Linked DNA regions of Homo sapiens: region 1 is linked to region 2. A link means that fine-mapping ties the variant in region 2 to the expression of a gene that starts in the linked region. Tissue or cell type: whole blood. Region 2 holds a variant in brackets; the other region holds the start of a gene. All regions are shown on one strand. Distances are from middle to middle.

Evidence for each region. PIP is the estimated chance that this variant, and not a neighbour inherited with it, causes the effect.
Region 1: it holds the start of TRIB3, and the variant in region 2 is fine-mapped to the expression of TRIB3 in whole blood (INTERVAL, PIP above 0.99).

What each region holds. Positions count from the first base shown.
Region 1 is chr20:377,410-385,560 of GRCh38, forward strand. TRIB3 (tribbles pseudokinase 3) reads left to right here and starts at 3,351. Exons shown (of 4, transcript NM_021158.5): 1 at 3,351-3,760. RefSeq lists silencers at 3,635-3,794, 3,815-3,924, 4,195-4,784 and an enhancer at 4,470-5,468.
Region 2 is chr20:309,004-317,154 of GRCh38, forward strand. No RefSeq gene overlaps it. Among named protein-coding and RNA genes, the nearest start is that of NRSN2-AS1, 12 kb to the right of the region's middle. RefSeq lists enhancers at 677-736, 1,486-1,565. The variant G/A (reference allele first, on the strand shown) is at 4,600.

The DNA.
Region 1 (8,151 bases), 68 kb after region 2:
CAAAGTGCTGGGATTACAGGCATGAGCCACTGCGCCCAGCCTCACATTATATTTCTATTGGAACACAGAATGGTCTAGAGAATTGGGATTTGACAAACCCAGCTGTGACAAGTCACCAAAATTTGGGGGCCATACCCAGGGTGCCGTTCCTGTCACGATACCCATAGGTCCATGTGGAGGCTGCAGGGATACAAAGCTCGTGAAATATCCCAGGATGGCATGGGCACTGGAGTCAGCTGCCCCAAGTTCAAATCTGAAATCAGTCTTTTTGTTTTTTTTTTTTTTTTGAGATGCAGTTTCACTCTTGTTGCCCAAGCTGGAATGCAGTGGCGCAATTGGCTCACTGCAACCTCCGCCTCCTGGGTTCAAGCGATTCTCCTGTCTCAGCCTCCCGAGTAGCTGGGATTACAGGTACATGCCATCACGCCCGGCTAAATTTTTGTATTCTTAGCAGAAACCGGGTTTCACCACCTTAGCCAGGCTGGTCTCCATCTCCTGACTTCAGGTGATCCGCCTGCCTCAGCCTCCCAAAGTGTTGGGATTACAGGCGTGAGCCACCGCGCCCAGCCTGAAATCAGTCTTATACGACCAGCTGGGTGGTCTTGGGTAGGTCCCTTACCTTAACTCTTCTTGTCTGCAGAATGGAGGTGACTTACTGTTTTTCTCTGTCTCCCTTTCACATCTTTGCACTCTTCACCCCTTCTCTTCCCTCAGCTTTTAGTTTAAACATCACCTTTCTGATAAGCCCTGCTGAAAATGGCCACCCTCAGTCATGACGGAGAACAAGTCTTTCCTATTTTATTCAAGAAAATGCATGATGCAATCTATTTTAAATGATCATGGTTTTAATTTTATTTTCCTGATAATGGTCTATCTCTCCACTGATTTATAAGATTTGTAAGAGCAGGGGTGGATCATTCTGGTCACTGCTGAGTCCCCAGCATTTAGAACAGGGGCTGACACAGCACAAAACAACGTTAGTTGGGAATGTACAAGCAAACCCAGCACACCTTCAGAGGGGTGCTCAGGAAACAGCCCTCCCACCTTTCTTCACCCCTCACAGCTGTGGGATCTTCCTAACCATTTCGGTGTCCCAGGATAGAGGATGAGTTTATTCACCCCTCCCCAGCAGGGGAGTTGCCAGGATTAAATGAGATCCCAGAATGCCCTGGTATACCCTGAAGGCTCTGGGACACAGGTGAGCTGGTCCCCAGGGATTTGGAAACAGGAAAACAAATATGACTCCACCCTGCCTCCCATCCAGCCTCTGCCTAGAGGAGTTATTTTATTTTATTTTACTTTTTTTTTTTTTTTGAGACGGAGTCTTGCTCTGTCGCCCAGGCTGGAGTGCAATGGCGCAATCTCAGCTCATTGCAACTCCTGCCTCCTGGGTTCAAGCGATTCTCCTGCCTCAGCCTCCCGAGTAGCTGGGACTACAGGTGTGTTTTTTGTATTTTTAGTAATTTTTTGTACTTTTAGTAGAAACGGGTTTCACCGTGTTAGCCAGGATGGTCTTGATCTCCCGACCTCGTGATCCACCTGCCTCAGCCTCCCAAAGTGCTGGGATTACAGGCATAAGCCACCACGCCCAGCCTCTAGAGGAGTTATTTTACTTACTTACTTATTTATTTATTACACAGGATCTCACTCTGTCACCCAACCTGGAGTGCAGTGGCACAATCACGTTTCACTGTAACCTGAACTCCTGGGCTCAAGTGATCCTCCTACCTCAGCTTCCTAAGTAGCTGGGACCACAAGCTCGTACCACCATGCCCGCTATCTTTTTCTCTTTGTAAAGACAGGGTCTTACTATGTCATCCAGGCTGTTCTCAAACTCCTGGCCTCAAGCAATCCTCCCGTCTTGGCCTCCCAAAGTGCTAGGATTACAGACATGAGCCAGCTCACCCAGCTGAGGAGTTATTTTTTGACACTGGTGAATTCAGATCAAAAGGGATTTCTAAGAAAGGTGCTGGACCCAGGCCGGGCGCGGTGGCTCATGCCTGTAATCTCAGCACTTTGGGAGGCCGAGGCAGGTGGATTATCTGAGGTCAGGAGTTCGAGACCAGCCTGACCAACATGGAGAAACCCTGTCTCTACTAAAAATACAAAATTAGCCAGGCATAGTAGCGCATGCCTGTAATCCCAGCTACTTGGGAGGCTGAGGCAGGAGAATCGCTTGAACCCGGGAGGTGGAGGTTGCAGTGAGCCGAGATCGTGCCATCGCACTCAATCCTGGGCAACGAGTGAAACTCTGCCTCAAAAAAAGAAAAAAAAAGAAAGGTGCTGGACGCCTAGGACGCAGAGGGGTGTTTCACCCCAAATCAAGTAGCACCAAGCCCTCCCAGGCCTTGGGTGCAAGCATATTAAAGGCCTCTTTCCCTCTCTGTCTCCATTGTTTACACTCCACTGAGCATCCGCAATGTGCCACACACTGTTCTAAGCGTCTTACACATATTAAATTATTTAATCCTCACAACAACTTTATGAAGTGAGCGCAATTATGAGCCCATTTTATGGAGCAGGAAGTTGAGGCAGGGTTTTAGGTAGCTTTTCTGGGGTAGCACTGTGGGTTGGAGCGGAGGTGGAGTGCACTCTTAGGCCAGCTGGCTCTAGGGGCTCTTCACCACTAGGCCGCACTGCCTCTAGCAAAGGGACGCGGGGAAGCTCAGCAGACCTTAGGCCTCCCAAGGGCGCCACGGTGGTTCCTTTGAGCCCAGAGTCAGCTCTTAAGTCCATAGGCCTTCCTGAAGCTTCTGAACCACTTGCCCATAGCTGGGCCTCAGGCTGGCTCTCAGTAGAATGTGGAGAATGGAGATTCCCGCATGTCCACTTCTCCTAAAGGTTTTATAAGGCAGTGCTGGGAATGTGCTTTATAAAAAAGGGGAAGCACCCCGACAACAGTCACTGTTTGCTCTTTTAAGCACCATCCTGAGAAGGAGGAATGTTCTTCCCATTTCATAGGTGGGGAAACCGAGGCTCAGAAGAGCAAATTTTTGGCCGGGCGCGGTGGCTCACGCCTGTAATCCCAGCACTTTGGGAGGCCGAGGCGGGTGGATCACGAGGTCAGGAGATCGAGACCATCCTGGCTAACAAGGTGAAACCCCGTCTCTACTAAAAATACAAAAAATTAGCCGGGCGTGGTGCGGGCGCCTGTAGTCCCAGCTACTCGGGAGGCTGAGGCAGGAGAATGGCGTGAACCCGGGAGGCGGAGCTTGCAGTGAGCCGAGATCGCGCCACCGCCCTCCAGCCTGGGCGACAGAGCAAGACTCTGTCTCAAAAAAAAAAAAAAAAAGAGCAAATTTTTTTTCCAAGGTGATAGGGAGAGTCCGTGGCTGATGTCTGCACTGACCAGACGCCCCTAGGGGGCCAGCGAGGGCGGGTCCCAGGTGCAGCGGATGCAGAGGAGAGAGGCCCGGGCGCGGCGCGGGGGATGGTGCGATCCCGGGCCCGAGGGCATCAGACGGCGGCTGATTAGCTCCGGTTTGCATCACCCGGACCGGGGGATTAGCTCCGGTTTGCATCACCCGGACCGGGGGATTAGCTCCGGTTTGCATCACCCGGACCGGGGGCCGGGCGCGCACGAGACTCGCAGCGGAAGTGGAGGCGGCTCCGCGCGCGTCCGCTGCTAGGACCCGGGCAGGGCTGGAGCTGGGCTGGGATCCCGAGCTCGGCAGCAGCGCAGCGGGCCGGCCCACCTGCTGGTGCCCTGGAGGCTCTGAGCCCCGGCGGCGCCCGGGCCCACGCGGAACGACGGGGCGAGGTACTCGGCGGGGTGCGGCCTGCGGACTCGCCCGGAGGCCGGGGGGCGGGAGGGGGCGGCCGGGGAAGGGGGCGCCGGAAGCCTCTGGGCGTCTGCGTGTTGCCGCGTGTTACACGCACGCACGCCCCTTACACACCTTTTCACAGACCCCGCCGTCGGGGCGCGGCCAGGTCAGATCCCTTTTGATCCGGGCCTGGGCTGAGTGCTCCCCCCGGGCTTCAGGTGACGCGGCCCCGCGGAGCGTGGGGTCGCCCGAGTTGGGCTGGGGAAGCCAGGGACGGAGGTGTCCGGCCGTCACCCCTAGAGGAGGGCGTGCGGGGGTCTGTTTTGCGTGAGTGCGGGATAGGGGAGTCGTGTGGTGCGGTGAGGGGCTTGTGGGGGGCACTGGAGGACTCTGGGGGTGGCGGGGGATCCGAGGGGGTCCTCGTGAACCCGCAGGGGAGAGTCCTGGGTGAGGGTGGGTCCCGAGCACCTGTGTCTCAGGAGATGGTGAGAGCTGTCTGGAGGGCTGGGCACTTGGTGGCAGGGGTTGGCGGTGCAGGGGACACCGCCGGGACAGGGCTGGGGTGCCCTGGAGCGGGGGAGCCGAGGGAGTGGGAGCGGGGGCGCAGCGCGCGATCTCTGGCCCGGCAGGGCCGCTGGTTCTCCCCAGTGCGCGGCTCCGGGTTTGCAGGTGGACGGTGCGCGCGTGTCTGCGGTGTGTGCTGTGCCTGCAGACCGGGGAGGGCGGGGGACGACAGCCACCTCCTTCCCTCTGCCTCACCCCCCTCCTGTCCCAGGGCCGCGCTTCAATTTCCGCTGAAACTTCTGACTCGGACACCCGCCGCCTTTCGCTTGGGCTCCCACGGGAGGGGCCTGGCTGCGGGGGGCGGGGCGGGGTGGGGGTGCGGCCTTGCTCGGGTAGACCATGGGTGTGACAGCTGGGAGGGCTGTGTGTGTGTGTGTGTGTGTGTGTGTGCGTGCGCGCGCGCGCTTGCGCTTGATGTAACCCGCCCTCATTTCCCTGGGTCCCGAGTGTGGCAGGGAACAGCAAGAGGTAGATATTAGGGGCTGCTTTCATTCCACATCACAGATTCTATTCTGCAGTGTGGTCTGCAAAATGCCTTGCCCAAGATGTATAGACTCAGTTACCGCATCTGTCCCCATCTGGGTGGAGCTTATCCCAGGCCCCAACAGGCTCTGAGGGATGGCCGGGGCCAAGGCAGCCTGGACTACTGATGTGGCACAGGCCAGAGGGACTCCAGGCAGTCTCCTGCTGCACAGGGCACAAAGCATGTGCACAGCCAGGTATCATCCTGCGTGACTCAGAACAGCCTTGAGATGTAAGGAGTGTCATCCCAGCCTCGAACCTGGGGAGCTTTCTAAGACTCCCAAGGATGGTACTTATGCATCTTGCTGTGAAGAATAACAGGATGAGTGCTAATAATGACCATTTCCTGACACCTACCTGGCAACAGGTCCATAAGCTCTACATGCTTCATTTGTGTTTTCATTTCATCATCACGAAAAACCTGTAAGCTTTGCATCCTGTTCCCACTTTACAGGAACTGAGGCTCAGAAAGCTTGAGGAACTTGACCAGGGGTACCCCCCAGCTAGAAAGGGTTTGAGACAGGATTAGAACCCAGGAATATCTGACTACAGCCACTCCTTACTGCATTCTTACCAAGCCAAAGTCATGACCTTTCACTCATGTGGGGAGGCCTTCCCTTCCAAGGCAGCTCTTCCATTTGGGAGCAGCGTACTTGGAGAGGTGGGCCTCTGTCTGGTAACTGACTCATGTTGCCTTGTTAATCCTGCCTTGAACTGTTGGGAAGGTCTTTAACCAGGCTGAGGTCTCTCGCACCAATGCCCATACCTGGGCATGCACCTCCTTGGAATGGAGTTTAAGTGGGTGGGCAGATGGGTTCTAGAGAGAACCCGTCTGCCCTGACCATGCCCTACTGCCCTCTCCTTCAGCCACCACACACACAGTCACACAGCTGCGTGAATGGTGGCTTTCCTTTCACTTAACAGTTCACTCTGGAGATCCTTCCAATTACCCTATAAAGAGCATCCTCAACCTTTTAAATGGCTGCACATTGTTCCGTTGTGTGGATGAAGTATAATTTATGTAACCAGCCCTGTAATTATAGACAGCCAATTATTTCTGTCAAAAGGGCTGCAGGAATAACTGTGTATTTGCATGCTTACACACACACACCTCTACAGAATAAATTCTTAGCAATGGGATTAATTGCTGAATCAAAGCTCACACGCTTTTCATCGTTGTTTTTGTTTTGTTTTGTTTTGCTTTGTTTTGAGACAGTCTCACTTTGTTGCACAGGCTAGAGTTCCTGACCATGGCTCACTGAAGCCTTTACCTTCTGGGCTCAAGTGATTCCCCTACTTCAACCTCCTGCATGGCTGGGACTACAGCTGTGTGCCATCATGACCAGATAATTTTTTTTTTCTTAGGGACAGGGTCTCGCTACGTTGCCTAGGCTGGTCTTGAACTCCTGGGCTCAAGTGATCTTCCTGCTTCAGCCTCCCAAAGTACTGGGATTACAGGCATGAAGCACTGCACCCAGCCTGTTTTTCATTTTGATATTGTCAAAATGCACTCCTCAGAGGTGGTACCTTTTATCCTCCCACTAGCACTGTCTTCATTGTTAGTGGCTGCACTGCCACTATTCCACAGTATAAACCCACTTTTCATGACACTGCCAAGACATAAGGGTCTGAAATACTTAACAGTTTTCTTCCACAGTCCCCAAAATACAGGCTTCTCCCCCAGCTCAGGACATGAAGCCATCATCCCTCCTCATTGCAGGAGCCAAAGGCTGGACCTCACCTCGATTCCACCCTCTCCTTCACCCCTCACATCCAATCCATCCAGTCCATCCAGTCTGCCACTGAGTCCTCTTGATCTTCCTCCTATGAGCCCTTAACTTCGCGTCTCCATCTAGCACCCCCTAGTCCAGGTCACCTTCTCCTGCCTGGACTCGTGCTTGTGTGGGCCTCCTAGCTAGTCTCACTGCCCCGTCTTGTACTTTCAAATCCACCCTAAAAGCATGATGTTCCCCTGCTGAAATCCTTCAGTGGCTCCCCACTGCCTTTGGATAATTCCAAATCCTATTGTGTGTTAATTAGGATTAGGCTCAGCTGTAATATAGAAACAGCCACTTAATAGCTAAAATGAAATAGACGTTTTTTTCTTCTTTTTCTCTTTTTTTGAGACAGAGTCTTGCTCTGTCCCCAGGCTGGAGTGCAGTGGCGAGATCTCAGCTCACTACAACCTCTGCCTCCCAGGCTCAAGTGATTCTCCTGCCTCAGCCTCCCGAGTAGCTGGGACTACAGGCATGCACCACCATGCCCACCTAATTTTTGTATGTTTAGTAGAGATGGGGTTTCACCATGTTGGCCAAGATGGTCTCGATCTCCTGACCTTGTGATCTGCCTGCCTCGGCCTCCCAAAGTGCTGGGATTACAGGCATGAGCCACTGCGCCCAGCCTTCAATAGATGTTTATTTCTCTCCTGTGTAAAAAACCTGGAGGTCTGGCCTGACAACTCCATGTGTCAGGGACCTAGGCTCCTCTCTTGCTCTACTGTATGTGGTACTTCTGAAGCCAAGGTAGATGCTGGAGCTCCAGCAGTTAGGTCCACATTCCAGCATACAGGAAAGGAGGAAATGAGGAAGTTGGGCCCTCCCTTTAAGAACACTGTCCTGGGCATTGTACACAACACTTCCACTTGTGTCCTACTAGCCATATGCTGATACAAGGATACAAGGGAGACAGGAAATGCAGTTTATTCTAGGTGTCCTTGTGCTCAGCTGAAAATCTCAGGTTCTAATCCTATGTAAGGAGGGGAGACCTGAAACTGGGGACCACTAACCACCTCTGCCATATGATGCTCGTAGAGCCCTTCACAATAGGGCCTCTACTAACCTCACCTTATTTTTATTTATTTATTTATTTTTGAGACGGAGTTTCACTCTTGTCGCCCAGGCCGGAGTGCAATGACACTATCTCAGCTCACCGCAACCTTTGCCTCCTGGGTTCAAGCAACTCTCCTGCCTCAGACTCCTGAGTAGCTGGGATTACAGGCGTGTGCCACCACGCCCGGCTAATTTTTGTAGTTTTAGTAGAGACGGGGTTTCACCATGTTGGTCAGGCTGGTCTCAAACTCCTGACCTCAGGTGACCTGCCTGCCTCGGCCTCCCAAAGTGCTGGGATTACAGGTGTGAGCCACCACGCCCGGCCTATTTTTTTTTTTTTTTTAACTTTTCACTTTTTTTTGCAGTCACGCTCATTCTCCACCGTGTTCTTGGGGAACATGCAGCATGTTCTTTTGCCTCTTCCCTCACCCCAGAACAGGGGTTACTGGACAGCGGCATCAACTTCACCTGGG
Region 2 (8,151 bases):
CAGGGCTCTTTGTGGGCCTCATCCCTGGCTTCATCTCACCTGAGGGCAAACTATACTGCCTGATGCACATCTTATAGACCTGAGCCTTGGGCCTCAAGATAGCTGTTTGCAGGTGACAGCTAGGTGTTGACCCATGCATGCTAGCTCCATCACTGATGGGATGAGAGGTAGCTGGATAAGGGATGGATACAGGTTCCAGGGGACAGGTCTCCTTGGGCCTACACATTCTGGCACATAACTCCAAGGGTCTTAGAATTCTAATTTGAACATGGCCTTCCAGGTTGTTAGAGGATATATCCATCAAGGAAGAAAACAGAACATATTTCATTTAACACTTGCTGGACTGTTGTATAATTTCTAACTATAGAGACATATGGTATATGGGCCTCCAACTCTACTCTTGTTCTGAGCCCCACAAATGCCCATTTGGTTCTGTCATTTCTTTGCATAGACAAGCTACATAACCTCTCTGAACTTCAGTTTCCTGAGCAGGAAAATGGGTCTATGGTAATAACTACATTATCAGGGCTGGTGAGAAAATGAAATAAAATAATCCATGTCAAGGGCTTGAGAAGAATGCCCTCTGGCTGTCGTCTCCTATGACTTCCTGTATGATCTCCAAACTGCTCTCTTTGCAGGGTTTCAACACGGCTGCTCCCTCCTGCCTCCTTACCCACAGCCAATAACCTCCCCATTCTCTCCACCTAGTCAAATCCCACCGTCTTCAATTGTGATAATAGCTGGTTGATTGCACGTTTACTACGTTTCAGGCATTGTATTAAGAACTTTCCATGCATTAACTCAGTTCTGACACCAACTCGATGAAGCAGGCACTGTTTATTATTCCCCAAACACAAAGACACAGGGATCTGGAGACTGGAAGCACTGGCGGCTGCAAGTGGCAGGGCTGGCGGGGTGTGAAGCCGGAGAGGAGTCTTTCTGCAGTCAGGCCTCCCAAATCCCGGGATGGAATCAAGGAGCCTTTGGCTGTCCCACCCCTCCTCCTCCAAGCCCCCAAATCCAAGTCTGTTATATCCCGTCAGCTCTGCGGGCCTGCCTGTGACTTTCAGCCCAAGGGGGCGGGCACTTCGTGTCACGCCACGTTGTCCACATCATCGACCCTCCCTCCCCTTCTCCCCTTCCTTCCTTCCCTCCCTCTCTTCCTCCCATTGAGTGCCAGTTCTGTGCCAAGCTTTGCTGTTCAAAATGTTACGAGTGGAGAAGTCAGGGAAGGATGGAATTATAGGTGTTTCTTCTTCATACCTTTCTGTTTGGCTGATTTTTTTTCAAATGAGCACGCAGGCCCGGTTCCTCAAACCCACTTCCAATGTGGCATTGCTGGGTTGGTTTGGTCCAAGGAAAGCCCTGTCTCCTTAACTCCCAGCCCCCACGCCTCCTCCGCCGGCCCCCAAATCCAGGCCGCCCTGCCCCCTCCGGAAAGGGGAGTTGGGGGCGAGCGCCGAAATCTGAGTGGCTCTTTCAAGCCTCCGTTGCCATAGAAACCGGCCGCACAGGCCGATGCTGTCCATTACACCATCCTCTAGCCTCGCAGCCAATGGACTCCGAGCTCCATCGCCAGAGGCCCCGCCCCCCAGCTCTGGGGAGTCCACCAATCAGCAGGTCCCGTGACTTAGAGCCCTGCCCTCGGCCCAGGGACACCACCAATGCGCTTCGACCCTGCCCTCCTTCTCTTCGGTGTAACAAGAAGACTCGATATTTTTTTTTTTTTTTTTAGGAATTCTCCAGATCAGAAGGAATTGGCAGTAAGGCCTCTGTCAGCTGCACCCTGAATAATCTTTGGCTGCTATTTTATTTAAGGAGAGCAAAACTGTTTCAATTACGCAACAATATATACCATTCTCTACTAAAACAATTTTAGGAAATGAAAATGTAGGCAATGGGATGATATAGTCTGCTCTATATGAATGTCTTTCATTATAGGTATTTTAATTTAACTTAAAATGATCAAGGAACTAGTCATCTTTCCTTTGTATTTCAAATGCATACAAAATTAAAGATACCGAGTTTTTTGATGCAGAGTTCATGAGACATTGACTTAATTAGTTGGTAGGCAACTTTTACTGAACCATCTAATTCCTGGTTCAGAACATTACAACTGGAGGATAAATGAATATTTCTCTTAATCCATGGAAGAAATTCTGTTTTTGAGGCGGGCTGCGTAAATGGCTCTGACACTCTGGAGTCTAAATAAACCAAATGTGTTTTTAAAACCCGTTTGCCATTACAAAAAAAAAACTTCAATTTTTTAGAACACTTTTAGATTTACAGAAAAATTGTGAATATAAAGTTCCCGTCTACCCCAGCCACCCACCCTGTTTCTTTCATTATTATTATTATTATTGAGACAGGGTCCCGCTCTTTCACCCAGGCTGGAGTGCAGTGGCGCGATCTCGGCTCACTGCAACCTCCGCCTCCCAGGCTCAGGCGATCCTCCCACCTCAGCCTCCCAAGTAGCAGAGACTACAGGGGCATGCCACCAAGCCCAGCTGATTTTTGCATTTTTCATAGAGATGAAGTCTCGCCATGTTGCTCAGGCTGGTGTTTCTGCTATTAACATCACATATGGTATTGCAGACGCATGGTATATTTGTTCCAATTAATAAACCAATAATGATACATTATTTATTAATTAGAGTTCACAGTTTATTCAGATTTCCTTCGTTTTTACCCAACGTTCTTTTTCTACTCCATCTTTTTCTACTCCAGGATCCATCCAGCATGCCTCATCGCACTAGCTGTCGTGTCTCTCTGGGCTCCTCTTGGCTGGGGCGGTTTCTCACATAGCAACATGACATCACTGTTGGTGCTGCGTCAGGTTTCTCTACTGGAAAGTCAGTCTTCTTTTGCCCCTTTTCATACTGTACTCTTTGGAAGGAAGTCACTATGCTCGGGCCACACTTAAGTGAGGAGTTATGCTCTATCTCCTTAAGGTTGGAATAGCTACATAGATTATTTGGGATTTTTCTACACTGAAGATTTGTCTCATTTATTCAGTAATTTATTTATATCAGTATGGATTCACAGATAATTATTTAATACTTTAGGTTATAATCCAATACTATTTGATTTTGTTGCTCAAGTTGTTCCAGCTTTGGCTTTTGGGAGCTCTTTCGGTTGGCTCCCGTCTCCCTTTGACACACCCCTATTTTTGTGGGGTTTTCTCGTTGCCGTCAAGCACTTCCTTACTTTCTGGCACTACAAGATGCCTCAGGCTCATCTTTCGTATTTCCTGCCCCAGTCCTCAAATCAGCCATTTCGCAAGAGCTTTGATTGTTTCGGAGAAGGGTATTTATTAGAAACCAAGAACTGGGCGCTAGGTGCACTCATTGCTACTAGGGTGTCATTTATTTCCTTCCTCCCTCCCTCCCTCCCTCCCTTCCTTTTTGAGACAGAGTCTCACTCCATCACCCACACTGGAGTGCACACTCATGGCTACAGCCACGTAGCCATGGTAATGAAGCCATAACCTCACGAAGCTTCCAGTTTACACAATTAGAGGGTTAATTACCAAGTTGCCCAGCACTCTGCAGTGTGCTGTGTAGGCAATGCGGGGGTAAATTATCTGAAGAGAATTTAAAGACAATAAAAACTGCAGCCTAGACCTCCTGGGCTCAAGTGATCCTCCCTCCTTAGCCTCCTGAGTAGCTAGGACCACAGGTGTGTGCCACCACACTCAGCTAATTTTAATTTTCAATTTTTTTTTTTGTAGAGATAAGGTCTTGCCATGTTGCCCAGACTGATACAACTCCCGGCCTCAAGCCATCCTCCTGCCTTGGCCTCCCAAAGTGTTGGGATTACAGGCGTGAGCCACCACACCTGGCCTTGGGGTATCATTTCTTTTAAGCCTTCTCAACTGACAGAACAAAGAAATATATCTGTATATACCAATGTGTATATATATACACACATATCTATATTTCCATTTGTAACCATCTGTATATATATTAAGCTAAACATGAGTTCCTGTTTATATTTACCACTTGAATCCAGGGATCATTTGGCTTGCTTCCTGCTTGCTTATCTCTAAATTCCCACTCCAATAACGGGAAACCTGGTTCCCATCATCCACATCCACCATCCATTTACTTAATTGTTCAAGTCCAGTATACATGTGTAGGATTATCAAAATTGTTAACCCATACCCCTGTGGGAAACTTTATCAAGTAGAGTACATTCTTCTGAACACTTTCTTTTGCCTTTAGTGTTCCAGCAGACTCCACTTGTTTCTTTTTTCTTTTTCTTTTTTTTTTTTTTTTGAGACAGAGCCTCACTCTGTTGCCCAGGTTGGAGTGCTGGAGTGCAGCGGGGCCATCACAGCTCACAGCAGCCTTGACTTCCCAGTCTTAAGTGATCCTCCTGCCTCAGCCTCCCAAGTAGCTGGGACTACAGGCATGCGCCACTACACCCATCTAATTTTTTAAAATTTTTGTAGAGATGGGATCTCACTATGTTGCCTAGGCTTGTCTCCAACTCCTGGGCTCCAGTGATCCTCCCGCCTCAGCCTCCCAAAGTCCTGGGATTAAAGGCATGAGCCACCACGCCTGGCCCACTCATTTCTAAAGTTACTTAGGTCAGCAC[G/A]TTTTCCTCTATCCTCTTCATGAGGTCATTTCACACATTTGTAATACGGTGAAGATGTTTGTCATATTCTGCATGACATTTTGGAATTATCTAAATGTCCTAAGTGATTTTTTTAACTTTGCATGCATTAAGGTTCACTTTTTGTGCTATTAAGTTTAATGGATATCAACCAATGCACAGTCATATACCCACATTTCTTCACCCTAAAAAACCCCCTGTGCTCACTTATTGAACCCTCTCCCCGCCAAACACTGGCAACCACACATCCGTTTACTGTATCTATGGTTTTGCCTTTTTGTGCCATTATTAAAAAAAAGAAAGACGCACAATATTTTTGTTGTTGCTCTTGTCACAGCTGCCACCCATTGAATCCTTACTATGTCCCAGGTCCAGAATTACACTGTCCCATTTTGAAGATGAGGAAACAGATGCAAATGAGTTGAAGTACTCCCTAGAGACTCATAACAATAAGCAAAGTTTGACTTCTATGATTAACTTCTGAGTCACCTCTGGGAATATTTGTAATATGTCTAATAGCCACACTTCTTTTGTTTGTTTTGATACAGGGGTCTTGCTGTTGCCTAGGCTGGAGTACAGTGGCTACTCACAGGTGCAATCATAGGGCACTACAGCCTTGAACTCCTGGGCTCAAGCAATCCTCCTGCCTCAACCTCAAAAGTGGCTGGGACTACAATGTGTGCCACTGTGCCCAGCTATATTAGCCACATTTCAAGTACTCAATAGCCGCTGTGCAGTTTATACTATTATATTGGTTTCTGAGTTTTGTTTTTGAGACTGCGTCTTGCTCTGTCACCAGGCTGGAGTGCAATGGCACAATCTCGGCTCACTGCAACCTCCACCACCTGGGTTCAAGCGATTCTCCTGCCTCAGCCTCCCAAATAGCTGAGACTACAGGTACGTATCACCAAGACCAGCTAACTTTTGTATTTTTAGTAGAGACATGGTTTCACCATGTTGGCCAGGATGGTCTCGATCTCTTGACCTCGTGATCTGCCCGCCTCGGCCTCCCAAAGTGTTGGGATTACAGGTGTGAGCCACCGTGCCTAGCTATATTGTTTTTTAAAAGATCTCTTATTATTTAGTGAAAAGAAAGGACCTGTAGTCTCAGTTACTCAGGAGGCTGAGGTGGGAAGATCATTTGAGCCCCAGAGTTTGAGGTAGCAGTGAGCTATGATGATGCCACTGCACTCCAGCCTGGGCAACAGAGGGAGATGCCATCTCACACACATACAAAAGAAAAGAGACCTTGTAATGCACACACTATCATAATCTCTGATTTTTCTTTTTTTTTTTTTTTTTTTGAGACACTGTCTTGCTCTGTTGCCCAGGCTGGAGTGCAGTGGGGTGATCACTGCTCACTGCAGCCTCAACCTCCTGGGCTCAAGTGATCCTCCCACCTCAGCCTCCCCAGTGGTTGGGACCACAAATGTGCACCACCACAACTGGTAAATTTTTTATTTATTGTAGAGATGTGGGTCTCAATATTTTGCCCAGGCTGGTCTCAAACTCCTAGGCTCAAGCTAGCCTCCCAAAGTGCTGGGATTATAGGTATGAGCCACTGGCTTTTTTTGTTTGTTTGTTTGTTTTTGTTTTTGATATGGAGTTTTGCTCTTGTTGCCCAGGCTGGAGTGCAATGGCGCTATCTTGGCTCACTGCAACCTCTGCCTCCCAGGTTCAAGTAATTCTCCTCCCTCAGCCTTCTGAGTAGCTGGGATTACAGGCATGCGCCAACACCTCCAGTTAATTTTGTATTTTTAGTAGAGACGGGGTTTCTCCATGTTGGTCAGACTGGTCTCAAACTCCTGACCGCAGGTGATCTGCCTGCCTCAGCCTCCAAAAGTGCTGGGATTACAGGTGCGAGCCACTGCCCCTGGCCTGACTTTTTTAAAATCAGGAAATTTAGATGAATCAAAAAAGAAATTACCTTGTCCCTATTGTTCTCTTCTCATTATGAATGTCTTTGAGGACCATGCCAGTTGGCAAATAGGTATTTTGGAGCTAGACACAGTTAGGGTGAGTGGAGTAACACGACAGTACCTACAACAGCCACACCCACACCTGAGTTGGCTTCATCCTGCCTTCAGGTATCATTAAGAATAGGTATTATTATTATTATTATTATTATTATTATTTTGAGACCGAGTCTCACTCTGTCGCCCAGGCTGGAGTGCAGTGGCACAATCTCCGCTCATTGCAACCTCTGCCTCCCAGGTTCAAGCGATTCTCCTGCCTCAGCCTTCTGGGACTACAGGCCCGTGCCACCACGCCCGGCTAATTTTTTGTATTTTTAGTAGAGATGGGTTTCATCGTGTTAGCCAGGATGGTTTCCATCTCCTGACCTCATGATCCTCCTGCCTCAGCCTTCCAAAGTGCTGGGATTACAGATGTGAGCCACCACACCTGGCCATATATATATTTTTTTCTTTGAGACAGTTCCACTCTGTCACCCAGGCTGGAGTGCAGTGGTGTGATCATGGCTCACTGCAGCCTGGAACTCCCAGGCTCAAGAGATCCTCCTGACTCAGTCTCCCAAGTAACTAGGACTATAGGCACACACCACCAGGCCCAGTTAATTTTTCTATTTTTAGAGACGGGGTCTCACTATGTTGCCCAGACTCGTCTCGAACTCCTGGGCTCAAGCAATCCTTCCAACCTCTACTTCCCAAAGTGTTGGGATTGTAGGCATGAGACACCACATCTGGCCTATAATGGAATATTATTTGGCAATAAAAAGGAAGTTCTGATACATGCTACAACATAGATGAACCTAGAAATCATGATGCTAAGTGAAAGAAGCCAGGCACAAAAGGCCACATGTTGTATGATTCTCTTTACATGAACTGTCCAGAAGAGACAAATCCATGGATACAGAAGCAGATTAATGGTGGCCTAGGGCTGGGGATTAGAGGGAAGGCAGAGCAGATGGGAGAGTGACTGCTAATGAGTACTGATGCTAATGGTTTCTTTTGGGGATGATGAAAATAGTCTAAAATCCATTGTGGCAACAGTTACACAACTCTGTGAATGCACTGAAAGCCACTGAATTGTAAACTATAAATGACTGAATAGTGTGGTATGTGAATTACATCTCAACAAAGCTGTTTTTTTTTTTTTTTAATGTTCTGGAAGAATCAGGATAGACATTACCTCAGGTGAAGGAAGGCAGGAGATGGGATGGTAAAGGAATTCATTGGGGAAAACAGGTTATCAATGTTCCAGTTCTTGTGTCAGATTGCTGACTCCACAGATTTTTATTATGTTATGTAAAAATAAATACACACAGGGCCAGGCATGGTGGCTCACACCTGTATCCCAGCACTTTGGGAGGCTGTGGTGGGAAAATCGCTTGAGCCCAGGAGTTCAAGACCAGCCTAGGAAACATAGTGAGAACCTGCCTCTACAAAAAAAATTTTTCGAAATTAGCCAGCCATGGTGGCATGCATCTGTAGTCCTAACTACTTGGGAGGCTGAGGCAGGAGGATCACTTGGGCCCAGAAGTTCCAGGATGCAGTGAGCTATGATCGCACCACT